Linked DNA regions of Homo sapiens. The protein of the gene in region 1 interacts with the protein of each later gene in a pairwise test. Each region holds a gene or a part of one and is shown in the gene's direction. Other genes may lie near its edges. The genes, in order: NEK7, KLRC1, EGFL8, TNMD, FUT2, MYNN and MAGEA2.

Region 1 (3,500 bases):
TTCAAATCTGACATCTGGTCTCTTGGCTGTCTACTATATGAGGTAGGTAATGTTGATAAATTCCAAATATTGATGCAGTTTTACTTAGTATATTTCCTCTATCCTTATAGTATATACTTACTTTTTTCTGGATGTTTAAGAATCACCTTTTTAATTGTGAAGAATTTTCGTTGGGTTAATAACTTTGTATAATGGAATTTAATAACTATACATTCCTACACATCTAATATATTTTTAAATTGTGTTCTTTTGATGAGAAGTTTATTTTTAAAGCATTAACTTTTATGTTAATATAACGCCTTTCTCTATATCTTGCATTTGTAAAAATATACGTTTGAACATCTGTAAATCTTGATCCATGCATTACAGGAGTGGCATAATGGATTGGATTTAATATATGAAAGTATAGTAAATATTTTTATCAATATTTTATTTCACTTTTACACAGGTGTAATTTAGCATTAAGGATAGTATGCAAACAGATAGTTCTTCTAGGTTATCAATTTAGTTTCCATGAGTAACAATTTGTATTGGTAAAGCTCAGTGAAATACTCTCTCTTTTGTTCTACTGGTGATCATTTATCAAAGGAAGATGGAATCATGTAGGTAGGTCCTCTAGAAATGTTGCACTGTAATAATTTGGGTGGATAAAAGAAAGCATGTTAGTAACACATTTTACATCTGTGTTGGTATAAAAGTATCTCAAGCTAGTGACTTCTGTAATTTTGTTTTTTTAATTGAATGATAATTTTCCTAGGAATATAGGCTTCGAGTCAAAGCTGTTAATTAAAAATTAGTCTATATCTAAGTAGGTTTTAATAAAGTGAGGAAATGTAATACATGGAAGCATTTTCATATCCCTGTGTAGGAATCATTTTCATATCTCTGTGTATATGAGAGAAGTCTAAAGAGGATAAATAGAAACCAATGCATTTCCTACTATATATATTTCCTGTCTCTTGTCCTCCAGAATTAAATGAAATATATGATGAAATCATCTATTTTAATTGTACCACCATTACTTGGAAGTAGAGCATTAGGAGGTGTTTTTTGACTCTTTAAAAATGTATGTCATGATCTTTTATTATTTTATTCATTGCAGATTCAAATTTCCTTAATTTAAGGAACCTGAAATTATTTGTTTTGTCCTTCCTACTAAAGTGACTAACAACTACTTAAAATGAAAGGATTTTTAAATATTCTTAAATAAACTCATACTTTGGATAATTTTTGTTATGAAAAATTATGAGTCAGTAATGTAACAAAACATGTTTTTATATGTGCACGAGATTACAAGAAATTACGCTCACTGTGTTATATTTTGTTAATAATTTGGTACAATCCTAAAAAGAACTGGATTGTTTATATTGTTACTATAATGTTTAAAAGTTAGTCACTCTGTACATTTAAAATATTTTATATTTGTTTAGTTAACCTTAGATTCCTTTAGGCCATAGTCTAATATTATCAAAGCAACATATTCTCTTCAAATCCCTAAAAGTAAACAGCAAATTGGTTTCCAATAACTAGATTAAATTTAGCAATAAAAAAGAAAAAGTTCTGTTGAGGTAGTAAGTGGTTTTTGAGAGGAAGTTTGCATAATTCTTTTAGATTTAGCATACTCATGTCAAAACTGAAATAATTTATCACATTTTGAATTTGCCTTTGAGAGACGGTGTCCCATTTTTGTATGGACTTAAAATGCCACAAAAATAAAAATAACATCTTTGGACATTTCTACATCCATGAGTTATATGTATTGTGGATGATTTTGAGTTAAAGTATTATCATGCTAATGTTAGTTTTCATCTCAACGCATTTTCTTGATTTCTCCATGCAAATCTTTTAGAAGAACTAGAATTTTTCTAAAGCTTTAATTTAAATTTATGTTCTATTTCCTTTCAGTTGTGTTTCAATGTACTGTTAATAGAAATAGCTAACAGTTTGGCTTTTAAAAATTGGTCATAACATCACGTATTTTGTATTGTACCCACTAAAAAATTACTATTAACAATGAAGACGTAGGAAGCCTTTTTTGAAAATGTATTTTAAACTCAGAAAATTAGACTTTCAAATATTCCTGAAACCTCAAAAAAAAAAAAAAACTAGCAGTACAGTTTTAATTGATATGCAACAAAGTAGACTTTACTAATTAAAATCAAGATGCTGTGCTTTTGCTACACGGACCTTTACATGGAAAAGTAGGTTTTACACATTTCCTTTATTGTTCAGCGCAGCAATTGCATCCTTACAGGGTTGTAGGTTGGTGGCTTACAGTTCAAAAAAAAAGAGAGCTGCCACCAGCCCCGAAGACAGACAGTGGGCTTTCGTCCCTCCGACACCCCCAGAATACTAATCAGGAAAGTCAGACCCTGGAGGTCAGGGAGTAAGTCAATCATTCTAGCGATCGTCTCAGTGTGGAGGATCAAATTAGCCTGAAAAATTCAGCTGCTGGGAGGAGAGGGCGAGCAGCTGTCAGGGGCAGCATCGAGATGCACTAATGAACCAGATGAATAGTGCAAAAGCTTGAAAATAAAAACAGGACAGTTGACATTTTTCATCTGTCAAAGCAGGAGATGCATGAAAATATACTATTCCTGTTTAACTCCTTAGGGGACATTCAGATTTTTTTTTTTTTTAACACTCTGCAGTACTGAGAAAAAGGACTATAATGAACGCCTAGAATATGATAATGAATATATGTACATTTACTTAAGGTTTTGCAAACACGGAGAGACTATAGTTTATATATACAGTGTATTTTTAAGGTAAGATCTTAAAGTGTCCTTGCATTTAAAACAAAAACCACTATTATTATTATTATTATTATTATTATTATTATTGTGGTTCTTTTAGAAATTTCCTCTCAGAGTGTTTTATATGATTAGGGGCATTCAGATTGTTTTTAACTTTTTTCTCGTCATGTGAAACAACTCTTCCTAAGGTACTTCTATATAGTTGTGTGCACGTTTTATGTAAAACATAGGCAAGATAAAAATGTGTTGAGCTACTTTCCAGTTTTGATTTCCAATCCCATCCCCTTCTCATCAAGGCTCTGAAGGAGTTAAAGCTCTGTCTGGAGCACAGAAGACAGATGAGAGCCATTTTCAGCTTGTCCTGTCCCCACTGACGCTCACTGAGTAGCACAGCATGGACTAGCGTGTTTCACACACACTCTGCCTGTCTGGGGAATGTACACATTGTCCTTCCAAAATCAAACTTATTAGCACATGTAGAAAAGGGTGACTGACTTTGGGGCAGCCTGGCACTCCGTGTTGTATTCTTGCTGCTGTGGTTCAAAGATTTAGAAGGTTTTGAACAGGATGCGAACATTTTAAATTGAATTTTTAGTTTGTAACACTGCTTACCACAGTACTTGCTTGCACTTTAAATGTCAAGTTAGAACCTTGTCTTAAAATAAATTTAAATTCGATAATGTCTTTTTTAAAGTTGTTCATCCTTTGGGTCGTGTTTTTCTGCATAAAAATCTCATTTGGAAG
Region 2 (2,425 bases), on another chromosome or scaffold:
TATTTGGACTAAATGTGGAATGATTATTCTGAATTTGTCAAAGAATAAATGAAAGAATAATTGTTGAAAGTATTCGCTTCTGATGCAATCGTATGTATATATTTGGATTTCATAACTCAAAAATATGTTCTAGGAGTCTGAAAAACCTTACTGAGAAATAGAAATTAATTTTTGAAAGTAGTTAAATCAAGAATTATAAGAACTATATGAGATGGTGAAATTTGGTTCTTTAGATCTATGAAATACTTTTCCAAAAAACCACCATTACTTTATCAAATTTTTCTTAAAATCAATTTTATTCCATATTATTCTAACTCTAAATAATACAAAAAAATTCAAACAAAAACTTAAAATTATTATGATTGATTTAGATGCTAATTTTTTTACAAAGATTACTTTAATTTTTCTAGCTACATTAATACAGAGGCACAACAATTCTTCCCTGAATACAAGAACTCAGAAAGGTATATAATAATTTTTAAAGTTTTAATATTGTACAGTTTATTTTTTCTTGATCTTAGGCTGTACAAAAATAAAATTTTGGGTGAAAAATTATAAAATTTGGCAATAAGTGTTCATAAATAAAATTAGAGTAAGGCATTCACTTGTCATCAACTATAAGTAAAATCACTATGCTTTCTTTTTATCTGTTGTGTTCAAATTCTTACTGCTATAATATGATAAGATACAAGTTATTTATTGTTCCTTAAAAATCAGATTAGTTCATTGATTTTTCAAGACATGTATAGAGTGGATTTTTGTTTGCTGGTTTGCTTTATATGGGAACACAATTAGGAGATGAAAGGCTGACCCTTTATTGCGCATGTGTGTATAAGTGACTGGGTATTTTGACACTATATATTTACCAGCCCATGAAGATGTATAGATATGTTGCATACGTATAGGTTTATATGTTTGCAAATATGTGAACTAATTTTCATTTTTAAAAATTCATATTGGTCTAGATAGTAATTCATATCTTTATTTAGCACGTCATTGTGGCCATTGTCCTGAGGAGTGGATTACATATTCCAACAGTTGTTACTACATTGGTAAGGAAAGAAGAACTTGGGAAGAGAGTTTGCTGGCCTGTACTTCGAAGAACTCCAGTCTGCTTTCTATAGATAATGAAGAAGAAATGGTAAGATGTAAATGTTTTAAACACTTTATGAAAAGCTTCTTTCGGTCGATAATATATTTGTAGAAATCATCCATATGTGTGGGTATATACATTTAGCTTATATGTTTTCAAGTTTATGTAGTATTTAATTGATTGACTTAATAATGTTTTAAAATTCATATACTGCTAATGTACTTTTGATTATTTTCAGTTTTTGCTTTTCATGGAAAACCATGCTTCTAGAAATGCTTTCAATCCACAATACATTTTGCTATCTAATTTTATCGGGCATGATGTGATCTGGTCATGCAGATTGATCACAAAGTGAATGAACTCCTGTGATACAAGTCAGATCATGAAATAAAAGTTTCCAGCTCTAGTAGTTCCACCCCTGTGTATGCCCTCATCACTTATCCTGACTCCTCTCCAAAACACTGTCTTGACTTTTAATGTTATAAATAACGTTTACCTGCTTTTGAATTTATATAAAGGGAATCATACACTGTGAATTTCATGTCTGTGTTTTTCACTCCTATCTGATATTTATGCAATTCCTCCATATTATTGCGGTTATCTGTCGTTTATTACTGTTCACTGCTGTAGTATGTACAAAGAACACTAAGAATCCATTCAATCCTGTGTCTCTGGATGGGGAAGTGAGTCTCATGCCCTCAGGGACAAAGAGGACCCTGGGTGGTGCACTGGTAGTCATTGGGTTCCTTTGCTGATCCTCCTCACCCACATCCACTCTGGTGTCTCTTGGTATGAGAAGGAAGTACTTCCTCTGGCTGTATTGGTAGCAAGTCTCCTGGTAGATCATCCTTGCCAGTGGTACCAGCCTTGCCTGTTGTTGCGGAGGGGACTCCCCTTCAATACAGAACAGGAGTGAGCTTTGCTGGGCCTCCTCCTATTGCCAGGTTGGGTGTAGGGAAACAGCAGGCCTAGGTCACCTTCTTCTGTCGTGTGGAGGACTTAACATGCTCGCTCGGACACTTGGTTGATCCCTGATGCTAGGGTCCCAGACAATTTCATCTTTCTCTTTCCACCTTTCAGAGTTCTCCATTGCTTTTGTCTTTCATTAATCCCAGAGTTTATAGTTGTTTTTAGTAGGGAGTAGCAGAGAGAGACGAGTCTACACCACCTGGTCAGGATCACTGTTATTCCACCAAAACCAAATCAGATAAAAAAGTGAGGGCTTATCTAGTTAAAGAATGGTGTGGTACCCAGAAAACCCAATATGTAGCTTCCATGTCATTTATTTCTGAATCACAACCTCTAATTTCTCTTCTAAATCTCCAACTCTGA
Region 3 (3,950 bases), on another chromosome or scaffold:
GGGGTTCTGAGGCTCCCCTATGGGGACAGTTCCGTTCTTGAAGTGTCAGTGTTGGGGAATATCTGTGGCCTATGAGGCCCATCTCAGGTTTGGGGATCCCCCAGTCCCTATGATCAGTGTTGGAGTACCCCCCTGGGAGAGCCTAGTTTCTTTGAGGCCCCAGGCCCTCTTTTAACTACCTTTGAATAGGTGTTATCCCTGTATTTATGGAAATAAAGTTCCATTTCCTCAGTGTGACTTGGCTCATTTCCAGGTGGAGGGGACCTGGCTCCCCAAGGAGGGTGGGGGTGGAGCCTGAGGCCTGGGTGCCCAGATGCCTGGTCTAGGGTGGGGACCCCCTTGGTGTTTCCGCTCTCTCTCAATGCCCATTCTTTGTGGGTTCCTGGTTCTCTGCGGGTTCTTTCCTGCTGAAGACAATTCTCTTCCTCTCCCAGTCCCCAAGACTGGGGGGTTAAGCTCAGGGCTCCAGTGGTTTGGGCCTCAGCCTCATGGGTGGAATGCGCCTGCCACCCCCAGGCTAGACGAGGGGGCAGAGGGTCAGGGTGGGCATTCGTTGTGCCGCTTTTGAGCTTTGTGGGCCAGAGCTGGGTGTAGGGCTGGACAATGAGCCTCCTCTTCCTTGAAAGAAGGAATTTTGGCTGAGACAATAGGGCCCTGTCTGTTCTGGCATGGGGGGTGGTGGCTGACTCAATTCTGTTCCCCCTAAGCCCTAACAAATGTCATGAAGAGAGGGGGGCAGTTTTCCCCTTGGTGCCCTGGGCTGCCCCCCTGCCCCTTTGTGACGACTTGCCCTTCTAGCTTTCCTCAGCTGATCTTGCTTTTTCTCCCATAACCTGAACTGCTTTGTTCCCTGCAGCTGGTTCTCTCCCTGCCCCCTAACTCTCCCCTAGTCTGTTTTGGGTTCAAGGGGGTACTGGTGGTGTTACAGAGCTCATAGCTTCTGATCTGGGGAGTCCAGAAATAGGGGCCTCAGAGGGTTGGAAAGATACTTCTAGGGAGCCCTTTGCTGGGGTGGGGATGAGGGTAGTGGGACTTGACCCTACTGAGCTGACCCTGCTGGAGCTAAGGAGGAGGCTTGTGGGAGGGGGCAGGAATGGGAGGACTCTCTGGCCCAGCCCCTCCTCTCCTTCTTAGCCTGCCAGGCCCACCCACCAGTCTGAGCTGCTTCTGCTGAGGCTGGTCTGCTTGAAGCCTCCCAGGAGAAAGAAGCCAGGTGGGAATGGAGAGAGAGAGGAAGGCAAGTGGGGAGAGAATTTCAAATGGGGAAAGAGTGGGGTTTACTCAGAGCCTTAGGGTGGGCATGAGTTGCGGGGTGTTTTGTTGGAGCAAGGGATGTGCATTTAGGGCGTTATGTGACGGTGTGGGTATATGAGGGGAGTAGCAGTGTGTGAAAGGTGTGGAGTTTCCAGGTGCTTGGTTTGTGTGTACGGTGTGAAGGTATATAGCTAGGGGTTTTTTTTGTTTGTTTGTTTTGTTTGTTTTTTTGAGACGGAGTCTTGCTCTGTCGCCCAGGCTAGAGTGCAGTGGCATGATCTTGGTTCACTGCAACCTCTGCCTCCAGGGTTCAAGGGATTCTCCTGCCTCAGCTTCCCGAGTAGCTGGGATTACAGGCGTCCACCACTGCGCCTGGCTAATTTTTTGTATTTTTTAGTAGAGATGGGGTTTCACCATCTTGGCCAGGCTGGTCTCGAACTCCTGACCTCATGATCCACCCACCTCAGCCTCCCAAAGTGCTGGGATTACAGGTGTGAGCCACCGCGCCCAACCAGCTAGGGTTTTGAAGGTATGAAGTTATAAGAGGGCATGTTAAAGACAGGAGGGTTGGCCAGGCATGGTGGCTCACACCTGTAATCCCAGCACTTTGGGAGGCCAAGGCAGGCGGATCACCTGAAGTCGGGAGTTCGAGACCAGCCTGACCAACATGGAGAAACCCCGTCTCTACTAAAAATACAAAACAAAATTAGCCGGGCGTGGTGGCAGGCGCCTGTAGTCCCAGCTACTCGGGAGGCTGAGGCAGGAGAATGGCATGAACCCGGGAGGCGGAGCTTGCAGCAAGCCGAGATCGCACCACTGCACTCCAGCCAGGGTGACAGCGAGACTCCGTCTCAAAAAACAACAACAAAAAAAAAACCAAAAAAAAAAAACCCTAGCTATATACCCTCACACCCTACAAAACAAAACAAAACAAAATTAGCCAGGCGTGGTGGCGCATGCCTGTAATCCCAGCTATTTGGGAGGCTGAGGCAGGAGAATCACTTGAACCTGGGGGGCGGAGGTCGTGCGGTGAGGCAAGAACATGCCATTGCATTCCAGCCTGGGTAGTAAGAGCGAAACTCCTTCTCAAAAACAAAAACAAAAAAAAACCCAAAAAAAGACAGGAGGGTCATAAGGGGAGGGTTGACTGTGTGTCCCTCCAGGTTGTGCAGAGGGGATTAGAAGTAAGTAGGTTAGAGGGGAGGTGGAGGGAGTGTGCTGGGGTGTGAGCTTTTATGATGCTGAAAGGATCATGATATGCTAAGGACAGGATAGTGTTGGGTTGTACACACAGGTGTAGGCAATCCTGGTGGCTAGTATGTAAAAGTGAATGTCCTGACTCCCTTAGAGGGTACCTGCAGAGTGCCCTTGGAGGGACTAGTGCTGGAGAAATTAATAGGAGAGGGGACGGGCATCCATTAACCTTTTCTTGCCTGCAGCCTGTAGGGTCCAGCGTCAAAGCGAATCATGGGGTCCAGGGCTGAGCTGTGCACTCTCTTAGGCGGATTCTCCTTCCTCCTGCTACTGATACCAGGCGAGGGGGCCAAGGGTGGATCCCTCAGAGAGAGGTGACAACAGAGGGGGTAGGGCCCGGGGTGAGCTCTTCTCAGGAGCCTTCTGCTGGGGGTGGGGCTTCACAGGAGGCAAAACATAACTGTAAGTTTAGAATGGGGGTGAGAGGCTGTCATCTGGAGGGAGAGCGGGGGGCCTCAGTAGCCTCTTGAGGGAAGTGGGACTCCTGGCTCCCCAGGGCCTGGCCTACTCAATCTCTCCCACCTCATCCTCTGGCATGGACGCAGTCAGGGAGTCTGCTCCAAGCAGACACTGGTGGTCCCGCTCCACTACAACGAGTCCTACAGCCAACCAGTGTACAAGCCCTACCTGACCTTGTGCGCTGGGAGGCGCATCTGCAGCACTTACAGGTGAGGGATGGGGAGATGGGACCCCAAGAACCCCAACTAGGACCCGTACTCAGGGTCCTGAGCCGGGCGCTGTGTTCCAGGACCATGTACCGCGTTATGTGGCGGGAGGTGAGGCGGGAGGTTCAGCAGACCCATGCAGTGTGCTGCCAGGGCTGGAAGAAGCGGCACCCGGGGGCGCTCACCTGTGAAGGTGAGGCTGGGTCTTCCGGGCCTTGCGGGAGGCGCGCCCCACGGAGCTGGGGAGCTGGGTCGTCGGTTTGAGTCTGAACCCCACTTCCTCTGTCCTCAGCCATCTGCGCCAAGCCTTGCCTGAACGGAGGCGTCTGCGTTAGGCCTGACCAGTGCGAGTGCGCCCCCGGCTGGGGAGGGAAGCACTGTCATGTGGGTGAGTCAGCTTGTCCTCCCCACCTACCCAGGTGCTTGCCCCCGCCCCCTCTCTCAGCCCCTTCCTTTTTTCGGTAACTAGACGTGGATGAATGTAGGACCAGCATCACCCTCTGCTCGCACCATTGTTTTAATACGGCAGGCAGCTTCACCTGCGGCTGCCCCCATGACCTAGTGCTAGGCGTGGACGGGCGCACCTGCATGGAGGGGTCCCCAGAGCCCCCAACCAGTGCCAGCATACTCAGCGTGGCCGGTGAGTGGGCAGGAGTACGGGCCACCCGAGGGACTCGGGACGGGCGTCCGGGCTCGGGTAGTGGTCACACTCTTGGTCTCCTTTGTCCCTAGTTCGGGAGGCGGAAAAAGATGAGCGCGCTCTGAAGCAGGAGATTC
Region 4 (4,286 bases), on another chromosome or scaffold:
AGCAGTGAGCACAATAGGAAAGAACAGCTTTCAAAGATATAAAAATTTAGAATAGATAGGATCTAGTGATTGATTGGAATAGATAGGATCTAGTGATTGATTGGATAAAGGGAATGTGAAAAAGAGACAAAACCTCAGATTTTTGGTTTGAAAGACAAACCTCACATTTTTGGTTTGAAAGACAAACCTCAGATTTTGGTTTGAAAGACTGGGTGCGTGACAATTCCACTATTATAAGCTAAGTTATGTTCCCTCAAAATTCATATGTTGATGCCCTAGCCCCCAGTATTTCTATATTTGACTGTATTTGGTGATAGGGTTTTTAAAGAGGTAATTAAGGTTAAGTGAAGTCATATGAATGGGACCTTATCCAATATAACTGATGTTCTTATAATGAAAGGAGATTAGGATACAGGCATACATAGAGGGAGAATGTCATGTGAATATGGAGATGGTCATCTACAAGCCAAGGAGAGAGGACTCAGAAGAAGCCAACCCTGATAACACCTTGATCTTGGACTTCTAGCCTCCAGAGCAGTAAGAATATAAATTTCTGCCATTTAAGCTACTCAGTCTGTGGTATTTTGTTATGGCAGCCCTAGCAAACTAATATAGCCACCAACTAAGGTTGGGAATATGAGGGGAAAAAGTAGGTTAGGAGAAGGTGTTGAAAGAAGACTTTGATATAGAACATGTTGAGTTTGAGATTCCTGAGGTATATCCAGGTGGAGATGTTCAAATGGCCTTGAAATTAAAAGATATAACTGGGTTACAGGTACAGATGTGGAAATCACTGATATGTAGGTGATATTTTCAACTGTAGGAATGAATGATATCATCTACGAAGTCTGTGTAAAGTGAGAATGATCATCAAGAAGAGAACCATAAGGCATGTGAACATTAAAAAGCAGACTGAGGAAGAGGACCCAAGAAAGGAGAAAAATCAGAGACAGAAGATGAAGAGAGAGAGCTTAGAATTAGTCTTTATTTTATCCTGTTTTCATTATAATTAGTTAAGTACATATTGATAGCACCATTTAAAGAGCTTTAACTTAGTGAAGGAGGCAATATCTTATTCATTTCTGAATCTCAAACACCAAGCACAGTGCCTGACATTTAATATCCCTGCAATAAATATTTGTTGAACCAAATGGAATCGAAATTAGGACTTCATTCCCTTCTTTGTTTTGTTTGCTTATTTCTGGAGTGTGCAGCATGTATTGCCACTGATATTTTAAGTTCATAGTGAAAAATCATTTCAATGTGTTCTAGGCTTGGTCCCCTTCCAACCCAACCCCCAGGACAATAGTTTTCATTATAACCTTCTGTCTTTGCCATTCTGGATGGAATTCTGTGCACAGAAGTTATATACATATATGGGTATATCTATGTAACAAATCGCAGCACAGGAGTCCCCTGGGCTCCCTCAGGCTCTGGTATGACATATTTGAGCCATATAAATTCAGCTTCTCCTCTGGCATCTGTTAGCCGACTCACTTGCAACTCCACCTCAGCAGTGGTCTCTCAGTCCTCTCAAAGCAAGGAAAGAGTACTGTGTGCTGAGAGACCATGGCAAAGAATCCTCCAGAGAATTGTGAAGACTGTCACATTCTAAATGTAAGTTGATTCATATTTTTTCCCTTTTGAGCAGAAGCATGGTTTCACAGATTTATCATATTGCAAAGTGAACATTAGAAAGTGGAATCAAAGGTGACTTTGAATTATGGCTTGCTTATTGAGATTTATTGTGTATTGTTTTATTCTCTCTGTTCTTTGGTTAGGCAGAAGCTTTTAAATCCAAGAAAATATGTAAATCACTTAAGATTTGTGGACTGGTGTTTGGTATCCTGGCCCTAACTCTAATTGTCCTGTTTTGGGGGAGCAAGCACTTCTGGCCGGAGGTACCCAAAAAAGTAAGTAAATACACATCATAATCTGATGCTTCTGTTCTGAGTTTGATTGAATTTAATTAGTAGGCATATAAATTATTCTGAAAATGAAAATCATTAAGTCTCTTTTGTGTTTATTTTCTGGTGGTATGAAAAACTGAATCAAGATTTTTCTCTCCTTCATTTGCCTAATTATTTTGGTAAGGGAAAAAAATTTATCTTCTATATTTTGGTTAGTAATGATAGGGTGTAGAATTACCCATTCTTCTATAATGCTTATATTTAAGGAGTTAAGACTCCTCCTAGGAGCAAAGTTTTTACCTTAAGAAAAAATACTTTTAATCTTTCTTTCAATTATCTGGGCAGAAACTGATGGAAAAGTAATTAGACCACCACATAAGGAGAAACCACCCAAAGTGGCAGCAAAGGATTTTCAGGGATTATGTTTCTGACTTAATGCATCTGCAGTGAGAACAGGCAGCAAGCTGCTTTTCAGGAGGAGCAATTCTCATACCTGACTTCACATTTATTTATGACTTTAAAAAGAAACTAGAGCTTTTCAGCTCCTTGCCAGCTGCAATCATCACTGTCCCACTGAGATAGCAATGCCACAAGGTAGAAGCATGCGACACCAAGTCATTAATCACAGATAACTCAGAAAGCTTCTGATACTGGGGTCATTTGGTGAAGCTTGGCTAGCCACTGTAGTTTATATTTCTGTACCTTAGTGTTATTGTTATTCCTGGGCTCATAGGCAATGGGCAAGTTTAGATATAAAATAAATAAATAAAACCATAGTCCCAAATAAAACCATAGTCCCTTCATGCTCACAATTTCCATTTGAAAGATAATCAACAAATATACAAACTACAAGTTGTGAAGATAGTTTTCTGGCTTTGCCATGTTTTTCTGTTGGTGTGTGGATTGCTGCTGAAGTTATTGTTATTACTGTTGTTAATTGGTTGTCATAAGATGCTCATTTCTATTTGGTAACAGATGTAGGGAGAAAAAAGCACAAATCCAGGAAGGAGGATGATACAAGAAAATGGGTTGGCATGGACCGTTAGGAGCCAAAGGAGCAATAGGAGCAGAGAGAAAAAAATATGGGTCAGTGGGGAGAGAGAGGCAGAGCAGGAAAAGCAGAAAATAAGCTGGCTAAGTGTCTGAAAGATAACAGAGGTATAAAGCATAACCACCCTTGGGTTCTCCACCTCTGCTGTCATACCCACTTTCATTTAGTCCCAAAGGATATCTTATCAGGTTTAAGTAGGAGGGAGAGCAAGCCAGCCTACTTTGTTTGCCTTTTTATTTATACTTTGTTCCAGAAAAGATTTCAGGCATCACCCAATGCCTATAGTTAGCCCTATCCCCTACTCCTCCTCCCCTTACTGCTCCTTGCTTCTGAACTACTTACCGTTCAAATGTCCTTCTAGAGAAGCCACCTGTGTTCAGGCTGGCAGGGTGGGTAAAGCAATCGAGATCAGGAAGGAAACAGCAAATTAATAAGAGAGCCAAAATGCATTCCAATACAATTCTGGTACCACTTAGCTAATTCCCAAGGTGATATGTCACCCCACAAGTTGAACCTTGGATCCTCTTGAAAATTATCCATGAGTTAAAGGGCCATAAATCCTTTGTTCTCCACAGCCATAATGTACTTAACTGGGCATGGTGGATAGCTAGTCCTTTTGACCACCCTTAGATGCTTGCCTAAATAAGGGGCCAAATGGCCTTTCTTGTTTTATTGTTGTCATTGGTACTGCAAATGCTATTCCAAAAGAGTATATGTGTTTTTATAAATTTACAGTGCTATTTGCCTCAACGCAGCTATAAACGACTAGGTGGAGACCTTGCCTTTTTATTGCAAAGTGTCAAACTCACTTGCAGCTTCATGGTCTCCTCTCTTTCCCTATTATATCATCTTTACATCTCATTCTAGTTCTGTTTTTAATGATTATAAGGAGCAATCCTATGATACCTCAAACCAAAATAAAACTTGGTCAGTGCATGCACAGAAGAGGTGGGATATGCTGCTGAATAAAGTTTATCAAAAATCAAACCTCTTGTGAAGTAATCCATTTTGGGATGTCATTTTCAGCAAAGGGACTCTCAGAAATGAACAAAGCTATTATGAAGTAATCCAGATAAAGACAACAGGTGTCCCCTAGGGCAAGTTTCTCTACCATGAACAAATATTGTTGGTTTTCCATTCCAGTGGGGAGTTATGATTCATTGTCTTTGATATTTAAGTCATGGCCTTCATAAGACCAGGTTTGGTTCATTGAAAACTAAGAAATCAGCTGGAAATGAGGATGCTTTACTTAGTCCACTACTACCTTCAGGTCCCAGACAAAGATCTCAAGAGACCATCTATGTTTCCAATGGGTACGCCTATCA
Region 5 (4,081 bases), on another chromosome or scaffold:
GCTGCCTCATGGTGTCGTTTCACTGGGAACTTTGTCCTCCTGTTTTCTGCAAACTGGTGGTTAGAGTGGGAAGCTTGATCTGATTTTTTTGTTTGTTTGTTTGAAGGGAGCTCCGTAGCTGGTAGGTAGCCTCCTGCTGCTTAGCTGAAGCTGGGGAGTGGCTGCTGGTTTCTCTTTCCTCCTGTTAGGACTGCTGGGAGCTCTGGTGGTGCCTGCCTCTTCTCTCAGTAAAATTCCTCATCCATCTTTTTTTTTTTTGAGACAGAGTTTTGCTCTTGTTTCCCAGGCTGGAGTGCAATGGTGTAATCTCAGTTTACTGCAACCTCCGCCTCCCAAGTTCAAGCGATTCTCCTGCCTCAGCCTCCCAAGTAGCTGGGATTACAGGTGCATGCCACCACGCCCCACTGATTTTTGCATTTTTAGTAGAGACAGGGTTTCACCATGTTGGCCAGACTGGTCTCAAACTCCTGACCTCAGGTGATCCACCTGCCTCGGCCTCCCAAAGTGCTGGGATTACAGGCATGAGCCACTGTGCTGGGCCATGGCTAATTTCTGTATTCTTATAAGGACGGGGTTTCACCTTGTTGGCCAGGCTGGTCTCTGACTCCTGACCTCAGTTGATCCGCCTGCCTCGGCCTCCCAAAGTGCTAGAATTACAGGTGTGAGTCACCACACCGGGCCCATTTGTATTTAAAAATTTTTTTGAAATAGGCAGGGCGAGGTGGCTCACGTCTGTAATCCCAGCACTTTGGGAAGCTGAGGCAGGAGAATCCCTTGAACTTGTGAGGCGGCGGTTGCAGTGAGCTGAGATCACGCCATTGCACTCCAGCCTGGGCAACAAGAGCAAAACTCTCTCAAAAAGTAATACTACTAATAATTAATTAATAAATAAATATAAGACTCTGAGGGGACTCAGAGTCAGCGAGAGCCTGGCCTAGCAGGACTCTGTCCCCCGCCTCCATGCTGCCTTCCTGGAGGCCTTCCTGGCTGCCTGGAGGAGCGGAGCAGAGTGGGGGCCCCTTTCTGTTGGGGCATCACAACAGTTCCCCAAGGAAGACCCTCGGGGACCCGGATGGGGGATGCGACCTTGTCCTGCCTCTCTCCCCCACCCTTATGGCCAGGCTTGGGGTGCCTGGTGCAGGTGGAGGAGCTAAGGGTAGATAACAAGATGGACTTTGTGGCCGGCAATGGGGAGGGAGGAGGGGCTACGGGCTCACCTCCCTCCCGCAGCCCAGCCACACCTGCTCTGGAAAGCCCTGTAGCTCCTGGGCGGGGTTTGCCAGTCACCGATGCTGGAAGGGTTTCTTTGGCCCTGAGTGAAGAGAGACCCAGAGGGAACACTGAGGTGCCTGCCCAACCACTCTGTCCCGGTTTCCTTCAGCAGGACCAGGTGAGAGAAGGTGAGGGGGCTCCTCTCCCACCCTACAACACGCACACCTCTGCACACACGCCCAGGCGGAGAGCAGGGATTTGGGACGTGGACCTGTGTGCCCTCGTGGGTCCCTGGTGCCCTCTGGGAGGCACCCCCAACTCAGGACCTCCAGGAGAGGAGGGTCCCTCCCTCGGCAGCCAGGACCCCCCTCCCCAGCCAGCCGCCCTCCTTAGCTCCCTCCCCACTTCCTTCCAGGTGGATCTGTTTCTAGAGCTCCAACCACCAGCTCCCTCCCCTTCTCCACCCCGGGCCACCAGGTCCTTCCTTGTCTCCTTCCCCTCAGCAGTTTCTATGAACCACCCTGGCAGTAATGGTGCAGATGGCTCGCGCACAGCTGGTGGTGACCCGACTTTCCTGCCTCCACCCTGGGGCTCCTCAGAGGCTTCATGGAACCCAAACTGCTGGTCTCACCTCCGAGCCCTGCCGTCGCCCAGGGAGGGCGGCTCCGTCCCTCCTGCACTCCCTAATCCCGCTCTGAATCACCGCTTCTGTTCTGGGTCGGAGAATAAAGGTGGGGTTTCCAAGTGATGGCCCTACGTTATTGTCTGAAGCTCCCTTCTCCTCCCCAGGGTGGAAGTGATAATGCCGGGAATCCGGGAATCCCGGGGAGGTGCAGGAAGACAGCGAGCTCGAGGCAGTGGGGTGCGACTGAGCCGGATGTGCTGAGCTGCCCGGGGCACGGGGCGGTTGGGGTAGAGAAAGGCTTTCAGAGCTGGGGGACAGGACGGGGCCCCGGGTGAGCGGAGAGCTGGGTTATTTCACGGGAACAGCTGGTGACAAAGCCGGAGGGGTGTGCGGGGCCGGCGAGAGACTGGGATTGTGTCTTAAGAGGCATAGGGAGCCCTGAAGGGGCTGCGAGCTGGGAAGGGGCAGGGCCGGCGCTGGGTGTAGGGGACAGAGGGGAGAGGAGGAAGCCGGGCCGCAATAGAAAGACGTGGACGGGGCTGGACGTGGTGGCTGACGCCTGTAATCCCAGCACTTTGGGAGGCCGAGACAGGCGGATCACTTGAGGTCAGGAGTTCGAGACCAGTCTGGCCAACATGGAGAAACCCCGTCTCTACTAAAAATACAAAATTAGCCAGGCGTGGTGGTGCATGCCTGTAATCCCAGCTACTCGGGAGGCTGAGGCAGGAGAATCGTTTGAACCCGGGAGGCGGAGGTTGTGGTGAGCCGAGATTGTGCCATTGCACTCCAGCCTGGGGAACAAGAGCAAAACTCCGTCTCAAAAAAAAAAAAAAAAAAAAAAATCTCAGTAAGATAGACCAGGTGTGGTGTCTCATGCCTGTAATCCCAGCACTTTGGGAGGCTGAGGAAGGAGAACAGAGGACCTCCTGAGGCCAGGAGTTTGAGATCAGTGTGGGCCACATAGCAAGACCCCCTCCCCACCATCCCTACAAAAAAAGCAATTCAAAAAAAATAATGCCTTCAGGCAGAATGGGAGTGGTGCTTGGTTCAAGCCTGACATAAGTGTGAGTTTGGGGCACAAATTCTGCTCTGAATACCAGGGACAGCCCATGTAATACAGCATTTCCCTTTGTGCCCACGCAGCCCTAAGGGAGGTGTGGTTTGTTGTTGTTGTTGTATCTTTTTGAGATGGATTTTTGCTCTTGTTGCCCAGGCTGGCATGCAATGGTACAATCTCGGCTCACTGCAACCTCCGCCTCCCAGGTTCAAGCGATTCTCCTTCCTCAGCCTCCCAAGTAGCTGAGATTACAGTCATGAGCCACCATGCCTGGCTAATTTTTTGTATTTAGTAGAAATGGGGTTTCACCATATTAGTCAGGCTGGTCTCGAACTCCTGACCTCAGGTGATCCACCCGCCTCAGCCTACCAAAGTGCTGGGATTACAGGCATGAGCCACTGCACTGGCTCTTTTTTTTTTTTTTTTTTTTTTTTGAGACGGAGTCTCACTGTGTTGTGCAGGCTGGAGTGCAATGGTGTGATCTCAGCTCACTGAAACCTCTGGGGAGGTGTTGTTTTTATCCCTCCCCACAACCCCCTGTTGATGGACAGACAAGGACAATGAAACACAGAGAGGTAAAAGCCCTGGGTTAAAGTCACACAGCACATAAAAGGTTCCTGATCATGCCGTGCAGGGCATCTCGCCAAACCTCAAAAATTCACAATCTCATAGCGCAGCTTGCTCTGTGAGGCCTCCCCACCTCTTCCTTCTCTCCTTCCAGGCTCCAGTCAAGGTCAGTGCCCAGCTTCCTGCTCTGGGCCACTCAGCAGCCACCTTCCTCCTTCCTGGGTAAGGAGGTAGGGAGCTACCAAGGAGGCAGGGACATCCGTGTAGAACATTCTGCTTTTCTTTTTTCTTTTTTTTTAAGATAGAGCCTGACTCTGTCGCCCAGGCTGGAGTGCAGCTGTAGTGTAATGGCACAATCGCAGCTCACCACAACCTCCATCTCCCAGGTTCAAGTGGTTCTCCTGCCTCAGCCTCCTGAGTAGCTGTGATTACAGGCATGTGCCACCACGCCTGGCTAATTTTTGTATTTTTAGTAGCGACGGGGTTTCTCCATGTTGGTCAGGCTGCTTTCAAACTCCTGACCTCAGGTGATCCGCCCCCGCTTGGCCTCCCAAAGTGCTGGAATTACAGGCGTGAGCCACTGCGCCTGGCCTAATTTTCTCTAAAATAGAGACAAGTTC
Region 6 (3,500 bases), on another chromosome or scaffold:
CAACACTTCTCATTACATACTTCTAGACTCTGTTGACTTCTGAACATGTTCATTGGAATTACACATACAGTGTTCCCTAAGCTTCTACAGTTACCTTTATTTTGCATGTCCTCTGCCTGGTTGTAAAGTATGAGCACCTATTGGTACGTTTACATTCGTACTTTTTTCTTTTTTTTTTCTGAGACAGAGTCTCACTGTGTCGCCCAGGCTGGAGTACAGTGGTGCGATCTCGGCTCACTGCAAGCTCCGCCTCCCGGGTTCAAGCCATTCTGCTGCCTCAGCCTCCCGAGTAGCTGGGATTACAGGTGCCTGCCACCAAGTCCGGCTAATTTTTTTGTATTTTTAGTAGAGACTGGGTTTCACCATGTTAGCCAGGATGGTCTCGATCTCCTGAACTCGTGATCCGCCCGCCTCCGCCTTCCAAAGTGCTGGGATTATAGGCGTGAGCCACCGAGCCCAGCCCTAGATTCGTACTTTTTAAAATGCTGTATGTATTTATCTCGTGAATTCAGAAACACTAATTTCTTTTGATTCTACTGGTGTTTTCAGTGGTCTGGAAAAGATTATATTTGTTTTCAGTTCCAACAGTTAACATTTTCTTAATAACAAAGCTAGTACTGTTGATGAAATCTTATATGACTTATGCAACCAAAACACTATTTTCTTCTAAATATAAATTTTATTGTTCCTTTAGGTGAGAAGCCATACAAATGTGAATTGTGTGATAAAGGATTTGCTCAGAAATGTCAGCTAGTCTTCCATAGTCGCATGCATCATGGTGAAGAAAAACCCTATAAATGTGATGTATGCAACTTACAGTTTGCAACTTCTAGCAATCTCAAGATTCATGCAAGGTAAAAAACCAAATGAGTTGTTTGATCTTTTAGTCTTTTAATCACCATAGTCTTATGAATAGACTATTATATTAGAATTCAGGACAGTAGAATTGTAATTGTGGTTCCACCAAACAATGTTAACACGTTCAAGGAACCACAAGGAAGCCACAGTGGTTGATAGGAAATAAGCAGGGGGTGGGGACTACTAGGAAATAAGGTCAGACTCGTCCAGAAGTAAGATCAGAATGGTCCAGAATGCAGCTTAAGAGGATCATTCTGACTGGTATAGGATTATAAGAGTGGAATCAGGGTAAACAGGAATCTATAGATAAAACCCAAGCAAGGGTGATGGTGGTTCAGGCCAGGGTGGCAGCAGTGAAAGAAATAAGTAGTAGTAGATTCTGGATATATTTTAAAGTTAGAAATAATAGAATTTGCAAACAGATTGTATGTGAAGTCTGGAAGAGAGTCAAAGATGATTCTGAGGTTTTGGGCCTGAACCCCTATAAAGATGGAGCTGCCATTAACTGAGATAGAGAAGGTTTGTGGGTAGAACAGTTTAAGTGGAAGTGCAGGAATTTACGAGTACAGTTCTGTGTGTGTTAAATTTGAGATGACTTAACACTTCTGAATAGAGGTGTGCAATAGATAATTGGTTATCTAAGTCTGCAGTTCAGGGGACTGGTTTGAGCTGAAGATAACAGTTTGGCAATCATTAGCGTTTGGCAGTCATCAGCATATGACAGTATTTAAAGCTGTAACCCTGGCTAAGGTCACCAAGAGAGTGAATGTGGACAGAAGAAATCAAAAGACGGCCCTGAGGCACTCTAACTTTATGAGTTCTGAGAGATGGGTGAGAACCAGCAGAGGTAACTAGGAAGGAGCAGCCAGTAGAGGAGGAAAACCAGGAAAGAGGGCTGCCCTGGAATCCCAAGTGAAGGAAGTTATTCCAGATGGGAGTGGTCAATTGTAAAATTCTGTGATAGGGAGATGAAGACTGAGAACTGACGTGGATTTAGTAAAGTGGGAAGTCAGCAGTGCTCTTGACAAAAGTATCATTAGTAGAGGCCAGTAGAGAAGAAATGGAAGTAGATAGAACACTTGGAGTCTCAAGGTTTTGGTAAAGGGGAGCAGAGAATGGAGGAGCAAGTAAGGTCAAGGGTCTTTGTTTTGTTTTTGGTTTTTTTTTAATATGGGAGACATCAGTATATTTGTATACCATAATCCAATGGAGTGAGAAACATGGATGATGTAGGACTGGGGAAACTGCAGAAGTGATATCATTAAGTAGGATCTCAAGTATACAAATTGGAATTGATGGATTCAGATGAACTGTCACCCTCATGTCATATGAATTTTTCTCAGTGAAATAGGAAGCAGGGATGTCACCTGAGAGTTACAATGGGCAAGGAGATGCTGATGGTTTGAGGAGAGAGTTCACAAGTCAAAGAGTGACTAGACTCATGAAAATAATTGCCTGCAGTATTAGGGGCCCACTGACAACCATATAAAGATCATGGAAAAACTTTTTGAACTGATCTCAGAACTAATGTTTTGATAATAAGAAATATTTGTTTTTGGCAGTGTTTACACTGAAACAACTACTGATTTTAAATACATAGTCTTGGCCTGTTAAGATGACATGAAATAAAATCTATAAAAAACTTTATGAATTCTTGCTATATAGACTGACCTCCAAATTGTTTTACTTATTTAACTTTATTTACTAACAGGAAGCATAGTGGAGAGAAGCCATATGTCTGTGATAGGTGTGGACAGAGATTTGCTCAAGCCAGCACACTGACCTATCATGTCCGTAGGCATACTGGAGAAAAGCCTTATGTATGTGATACCTGTGGGAAGGCATTTGCTGTCTCTAGTTCTCTTATCACTCATTCTCGAAAACATACAGGTAAGTTTGACAGGGAGAGACTGCTTAAAATAAAGTTATAAATAAAAGAAAAAGGGGACTTGGGCCTTTTAGCGAAGTAGATCGGAAACTTTGTAGTTAGATATCTGTTTATATTTCTATAAGCTATGTTTATGATTTTTGCACATATTTGTTAAATATAAAAGCTGACTTATTTTCTAGAATAATACAAGGTGGGTGAAATAAATTATATAACTTACACATTAAAATCAGTGAGATAATTTTGATATTATATAAACTTGCATTGAGATGCATTTTGTGACTTTATAAAAACCTTTTCAGCTTCCTAAAGGGTCATCTCCTATAGTTAGGGTTGGGGAGTGGGTTTGGGTTGAACATGGATTTTTAAACTTCTTAGGACCTTTCCTACACAGATATTCTGGGATTTTCAAATAAGGTAATTCAGATGCAAAATAGCAGTTTGGAAACAAATTGCTTTTTTAGGGTACATTTTTTAAAAGACTTCCCTACATACTTTTATTCTCCTTTATTAATATAGTAGATAGCAAGAATAGAAATGTGGGTTTATGAATTGACATGTTCTTAATCATATAAAAATCAAATTCCTTGCCCAAATCATCTCTATTAGAAGGGACATTTTGAGGAATAAAGTTTTAATATATGAAAACTTATGAACAGTATACAATAATTACTAATATTCATTTACTTGGATCACTGAAAATACCTCTAAAGTACAATATAGAGAGATTTTAATTTAAATAATATTCCAGAAA
Region 7 (4,089 bases), on another chromosome or scaffold:
AGAAAGTAAAACACCAGTATCAGCAAGAAAATCTACACAACAAAACAGGGAAAGCCCAGAGTGAGACTGGAGACTGTGTTGAGCTGGTACTTGTGTGTGACACTTGCAGTGTCTGTTGGAGGGGGTTAGCGGCAGAGATGTTGGGGAGGTTTGTAGCCTGCCTAGACGGCAGATGAAAGAATGGGTAGAATAAAAGTTTTGAATTTTCCACTTCACTTCATTGCACAATCTGAGGCAGCCCCTGAAAACACGATGCCAAGAGCCCTAGGTAATAGCAGTGTCCACCAGGAAAATTGGGTTTGTTAAGGCAGCATGGCTCCAGAGTTCTGCTAATAACAACCTGAAACCAACAGAGTGGGAGAGGAATTATGTTTTTTAAAAAAATTCTTTCAACAGAACACAAAGACTGGAATGGAAGTAGACTAGGATATCAGAGTGAATCATGCATACTAAGGGTAGGTGTTAGTTCATAGAAATAAATATATATATTGCTACCTACATATATACTTAGAAGATATGTAAACCGTATTTCTTCAATTCAGAGAATAAATCATTTAGGACCAAAGGTTTGCCAAGTGTAGCTCTGGCTGGGGAGGAGCCCCCGTGGGAAGGTGTGCGTCTTCTCCCAGAGGTCACTATCATCGCGGGAGCTCCTGCCCTGCAGGGAGCACCTGGCCTGGCACCCGCAGCCATTCTCTACAAGGGGTGCAGATGCGCAGATGCGCAGATGCTCAGAGGTGACAGAAACAGAGCATCTCCCACCCATTCCTTCATCAAACAGCCAGGAGTGAGGAAGAGGACCCTCCTGAGTGAGGACTGAGGATCCACCCTCACCCACATAGTGGGACCACAGAATCCAGCTCAGCCCCTCTTGTCAGCCCTGGTACACACTGGCAATGATCTCACCCCGAGCACACCCCTCCCCCCAATGCCACTTCGGGCCGACTCAGAGTCAGAGACTTGGTCTGAGGGGAGCAAACACAATCGGCAGAGGATGGCGGTCCAGGCTCAGTCTGGCATCCAAGTCAGGACCTTGAGGGATGACCAAAGGCCCCTCCCACCCCCAACTCCCCCGACCCCACCAGGATCTACAGCCTCAGGATCCCCGTCCCAATCCCTACCCCTACACCAACACCATCTTCATGCTTACCCCCACCCCCCCATCCAGATCCCCATCCGGGCAGAATCCGGTTCCACCCTTGCCGTGAACCCAGGGAAGTCACGGGCCCGGATGTGACGCCACTGACTTGCGCATTGGAGGTCAGAGGACAGCGAGATTCTCGCCCTGAGCAACGGCCTGACGTCGGCGGAGGGAAGCAGGCGCAGGCTCCGTGAGGAGGCAAGGTAAGACGCCGAGGGAGGACTGAGGCGGGCCTCACCCCAGACAGAGGGCCCCCAATAATCCAGCGCTGCCTCTGCTGCCGGGCCTGGACCACCCTGCAGGGGAAGACTTCTCAGGCTGAGTCGCCACCACCTCACCCCGCCACCCCCCGCCGCTTTAACCGCAGGGAACTCTGGCGTAAGAGCTTTGTGTGACCAGGGCAGGGCTGGTTAGAAGTGCTCAGGGCCCAGACTCAGCCAGGAATCAAGGTCAGGACCCCAAGAGGGGACTGAGGGCAACCCACCCCCTACCCTCACTACCAATCCCATCCCCCAACACCAACCCCACCCCCATCCCTCAAACACCAACCCCACCCCCAAACCCCATTCCCATCTCCTCCCCCACCACCATCCTGGCAGAATCCGGGCTTTGCCCCTGCAATCAACCCACGGAAGCTCCGGGAATGGCGGCCAAGCACGCGGATCCTGACGTTCACATGTACGGCTAAGGGAGGGAAGGGGTTGGGTCTCGTGAGTATGGCCTTTGGGATGCAGAGGAAGGGCCCAGGCCCTCCTGGAAGACAGTGGAGTCCTTAGGGGACCCAGCATGCCAGGACAGGGGGCCCACTGTACCCCTGTCTCAAACTGAGCCACCTTTTCATTCAGCCGCGGGAATCCTAGGGATGCAGACCCACTTCAGCAGGGGGTTGGGGCCCAGCCCTGCGAGGAGTCAAGGGGAGGAAGAAGAGGGAGGACTGAGGGGACCTTGGAGTCCAGATCAGTGGCAACCTTGGGCTGGGGGATCCTGGGCACAGTGGCCGAATGTGCCCCGTGCTCATTGCACCTTCAGGGTGACAGAGAGTTGAGGGCTGTGGTCTGAGGGCTGGGACTTCAGGTCAGCAGAGGGAGGAATCCCAGGATCTGCCGGACCCAAGGTGTGCCCCCTTCATGAGGACTGGGGATACCCCCGGCCCAGAAAGAAGGGATGCCACAGAGTCTGGCCGTCCCTTGTTCTTAGCTCTGGGGGAACCTGATCAGGGATGGCCCTAAGTGACAATCTCATTTGTACCACAGGCAGGAGGTTGGGGAACCCTCAGGGAGATAAGGTGTTGGTGTAAAGAGGAGCTGTCTGCTCATTTCAGGGGGTTGGGGGTTGAGAAAGGGCAGTCCCTGGCAGGAGTAAAGATGAGTAACCCACAGGAGGCCATCATAACGTTCACCCTAGAACCAAAGGGGTCAGCCCTGGACAACGCACGTGGGGGTAACAGGATGTGGCCCCTCCTCACTTCTGTTTCCAGATCTCAGGGAGTTGATGACCTTGTTTTCAGAAGGTGACTCAGGTCAACACAGGGGCCCCCATCTGGTCGACAGATGCAGTGGTTCTAGGATCTGCCAAGCATCCAGGTGGAGAGCCTGAGGTAGGATTGAGGGTACTCCTGGGCCAGAATGCAGACAGGGGGCCCCATAGAAATCTGCCCTGCCCCTGCGGTTACTTCAGAGACCCTGGGCAGGGCTGTCAGCTGAAGTCCCTCCATTATCCTGGGATCTTTGATGTCAGGGAAGGGGAGGCCTTGGTCTGAAGGGGCTGGAGTCAGGTCAGTAGAGGGAGGGTCTCAGGCCCTGCCAGGAGTGGACGTGAGGACCAAGCGGACTCGTCACCCAGGACACCTGGACTCCAATGAATTTGGACATCTCTCGTTGTCCTTCGCGGGAGGACCTGGTCACGTATGGCCAGATGTGGGTCCCCTCATCTCCTTCTGTACCATATCAGGGATGTGAGTTCTTGACATGAGAGATTCTCAAGCCAGCAAAAGGGTGGGATTAGGCCCTACAAGGAGAAAGGTGAGGGCCCTGAGTGAGCACAGAGGGGACCCTCCACCCAAGTAGAGTGGGGACCTCACGGAGTCTGGCCAACCCTGCTGAGACTTCTGGGAATCCGTGGCTGTGCTTGCAGTCTGCACACTGAAGGCCCGTGCATTCCTCTCCCAGGAATCAGGAGCTCCAGGAACCAGGCAGTGAGGCCTTGGTCTGAGTCAGTGTCCTCAGGTCACAGAGCAGAGGGGACGCAGACAGTGCCAACACTGAAGGTTTGCCTGGAATGCACACCAAGGGCCCCACCCGCCCAGAACAAATGGGACTCCAGAGGGCCTGGCCTCACCCTCCCTATTCTCAGTCCTGCAGCCTGAGCATGTGCTGGCCGGCTGTACCCTGAGGTGCCCTCCCACTTCCTCCTTCAGGTTCTGAGGGGGACAGGCTGACAAGTAGGACCCGAGGCACTGGAGGAGCATTGAAGGAGAAGATCTGTAAGTAAGCCTTTGTCAGAGCCTCCAAGGTTCAGTTCAGTTCTCACCTAAGGCCTCACACACGCTCCTTCTCTCCCCAGGCCTGTGGGTCTTCATTGCCCAGCTCCTGCCCGCACTCCTGCCTGCTGCCCTGACCAGAGTCATCATGCCTCTTGAGCAGAGGAGTCAGCACTGCAAGCCTGAAGAAGGCCTTGAGGCCCGAGGAGAGGCCCTGGGCCTGGTGGGTGCGCAGGCTCCTGCTACTGAGGAGCAGCAGACCGCTTCTTCCTCTTCTACTCTAGTGGAAGTTACCCTGGGGGAGGTGCCTGCTGCCGACTCACCGAGTCCTCCCCACAGTCCTCAGGGAGCCTCCAGCTTCTCGACTACCATCAACTACACTCTTTGGAGACAATCCGATGAGGGCTCCAGCAACCAAGAAGAGGAGGGGCCAAGAATGTTTCCCGACCTGGAGTCCGAGTTCCAAGCA

What was found.
Region 2: the proteins of NEK7 (region 1) and KLRC1 interact in binary tests that used the Homo sapiens proteins (3 or more experiments, as listed by UniProt).
Region 3: the proteins of NEK7 (region 1) and EGFL8 interact in binary tests that used the Homo sapiens proteins (3 or more experiments, as listed by UniProt).
Region 4: the proteins of NEK7 (region 1) and TNMD interact in binary tests that used the Homo sapiens proteins (3 or more experiments, as listed by UniProt).
Region 5: the proteins of NEK7 (region 1) and FUT2 interact in binary tests that used the Homo sapiens proteins (3 or more experiments, as listed by UniProt).
Region 6: the proteins of NEK7 (region 1) and MYNN interact in binary tests that used the Homo sapiens proteins (3 or more experiments, as listed by UniProt).
Region 7: the proteins of NEK7 (region 1) and MAGEA2 interact in binary tests that used the Homo sapiens proteins (3 or more experiments, as listed by UniProt).

What each region holds. Positions count from the first base shown.
Region 1 is NC_000001.11:198,292,998-198,296,497, forward strand, and holds part of NEK7 (serine/threonine-protein kinase Nek7), read left to right. Parts: coding exon 1-42; intron 43-3,500. UniProt on the Homo sapiens protein: Protein kinase which plays an important role in mitotic cell cycle progression. Required for microtubule nucleation activity of the centrosome, robust mitotic spindle formation and cytokinesis.
Region 2 is NC_000012.12:10,447,953-10,450,377, reverse strand, and holds part of KLRC1 (NKG2-A/NKG2-B type II integral membrane protein), read left to right. Parts: intron 1-410; coding exon 411-464; intron 465-989; coding exon 990-1,141; intron 1,142-2,425. UniProt on the Homo sapiens protein: Immune inhibitory receptor involved in self-nonself discrimination.
Region 3 is NC_000006.12:32,163,445-32,167,394, forward strand, and holds the start of EGFL8 (epidermal growth factor-like protein 8 precursor), read left to right. Parts: upstream 1-1,150; 5' UTR 1,151-1,213; exon of another isoform or gene 1,214-1,237; intron 1,238-2,693; 5' UTR 2,694-2,721; coding exon 2,722-2,822; exon of another isoform or gene 2,823-3,053; coding exon 3,054-3,176; intron 3,177-3,256; coding exon 3,257-3,366; intron 3,367-3,465; coding exon 3,466-3,561; intron 3,562-3,642; coding exon 3,643-3,813; intron 3,814-3,905; coding exon 3,906-3,950.
Region 4 is NC_000023.11:100,583,450-100,587,735, forward strand, and holds the start of TNMD (tenomodulin), read left to right. Parts: upstream 1-1,486; 5' UTR 1,487-1,569; coding exon 1,570-1,617; intron 1,618-1,781; coding exon 1,782-1,913; intron 1,914-4,286. UniProt on the Homo sapiens protein: May be an angiogenesis inhibitor.
Region 5 is NC_000019.10:48,694,690-48,698,770, forward strand, and holds the start of FUT2 (galactoside alpha-(1,2)-fucosyltransferase 2), read left to right. Parts: upstream 1-1,281; 5' UTR 1,282-1,400; intron 1,401-4,081.
Region 6 is NC_000003.12:169,779,896-169,783,395, forward strand, and holds part of MYNN (myoneurin), read left to right. Parts: intron 1-694; coding exon 695-854; intron 855-2,569; coding exon 2,570-2,748; intron 2,749-3,500.
Region 7 is NC_000023.11:152,751,043-152,755,131, reverse strand, and holds the start of MAGEA2 (melanoma-associated antigen 2), read left to right. Parts: upstream 1-1,289; 5' UTR 1,290-1,344; exon of another isoform or gene 1,345-1,590; intron 1,591-1,740; 5' UTR 1,741-1,819; intron 1,820-2,618; 5' UTR 2,619-2,738; intron 2,739-3,309; exon of another isoform or gene 3,310-3,407; intron 3,408-3,557; 5' UTR 3,558-3,623; intron 3,624-3,703; 5' UTR 3,704-3,768; coding exon 3,769-4,089. UniProt on the Homo sapiens protein: Reduces p53/TP53 transactivation function through recruitment of HDAC3 to p53/TP53 transcription sites. Also represses p73/TP73 activity. Proposed to enhance ubiquitin ligase activity of RING-type zinc finger-containing E3 ubiquitin-protein ligases.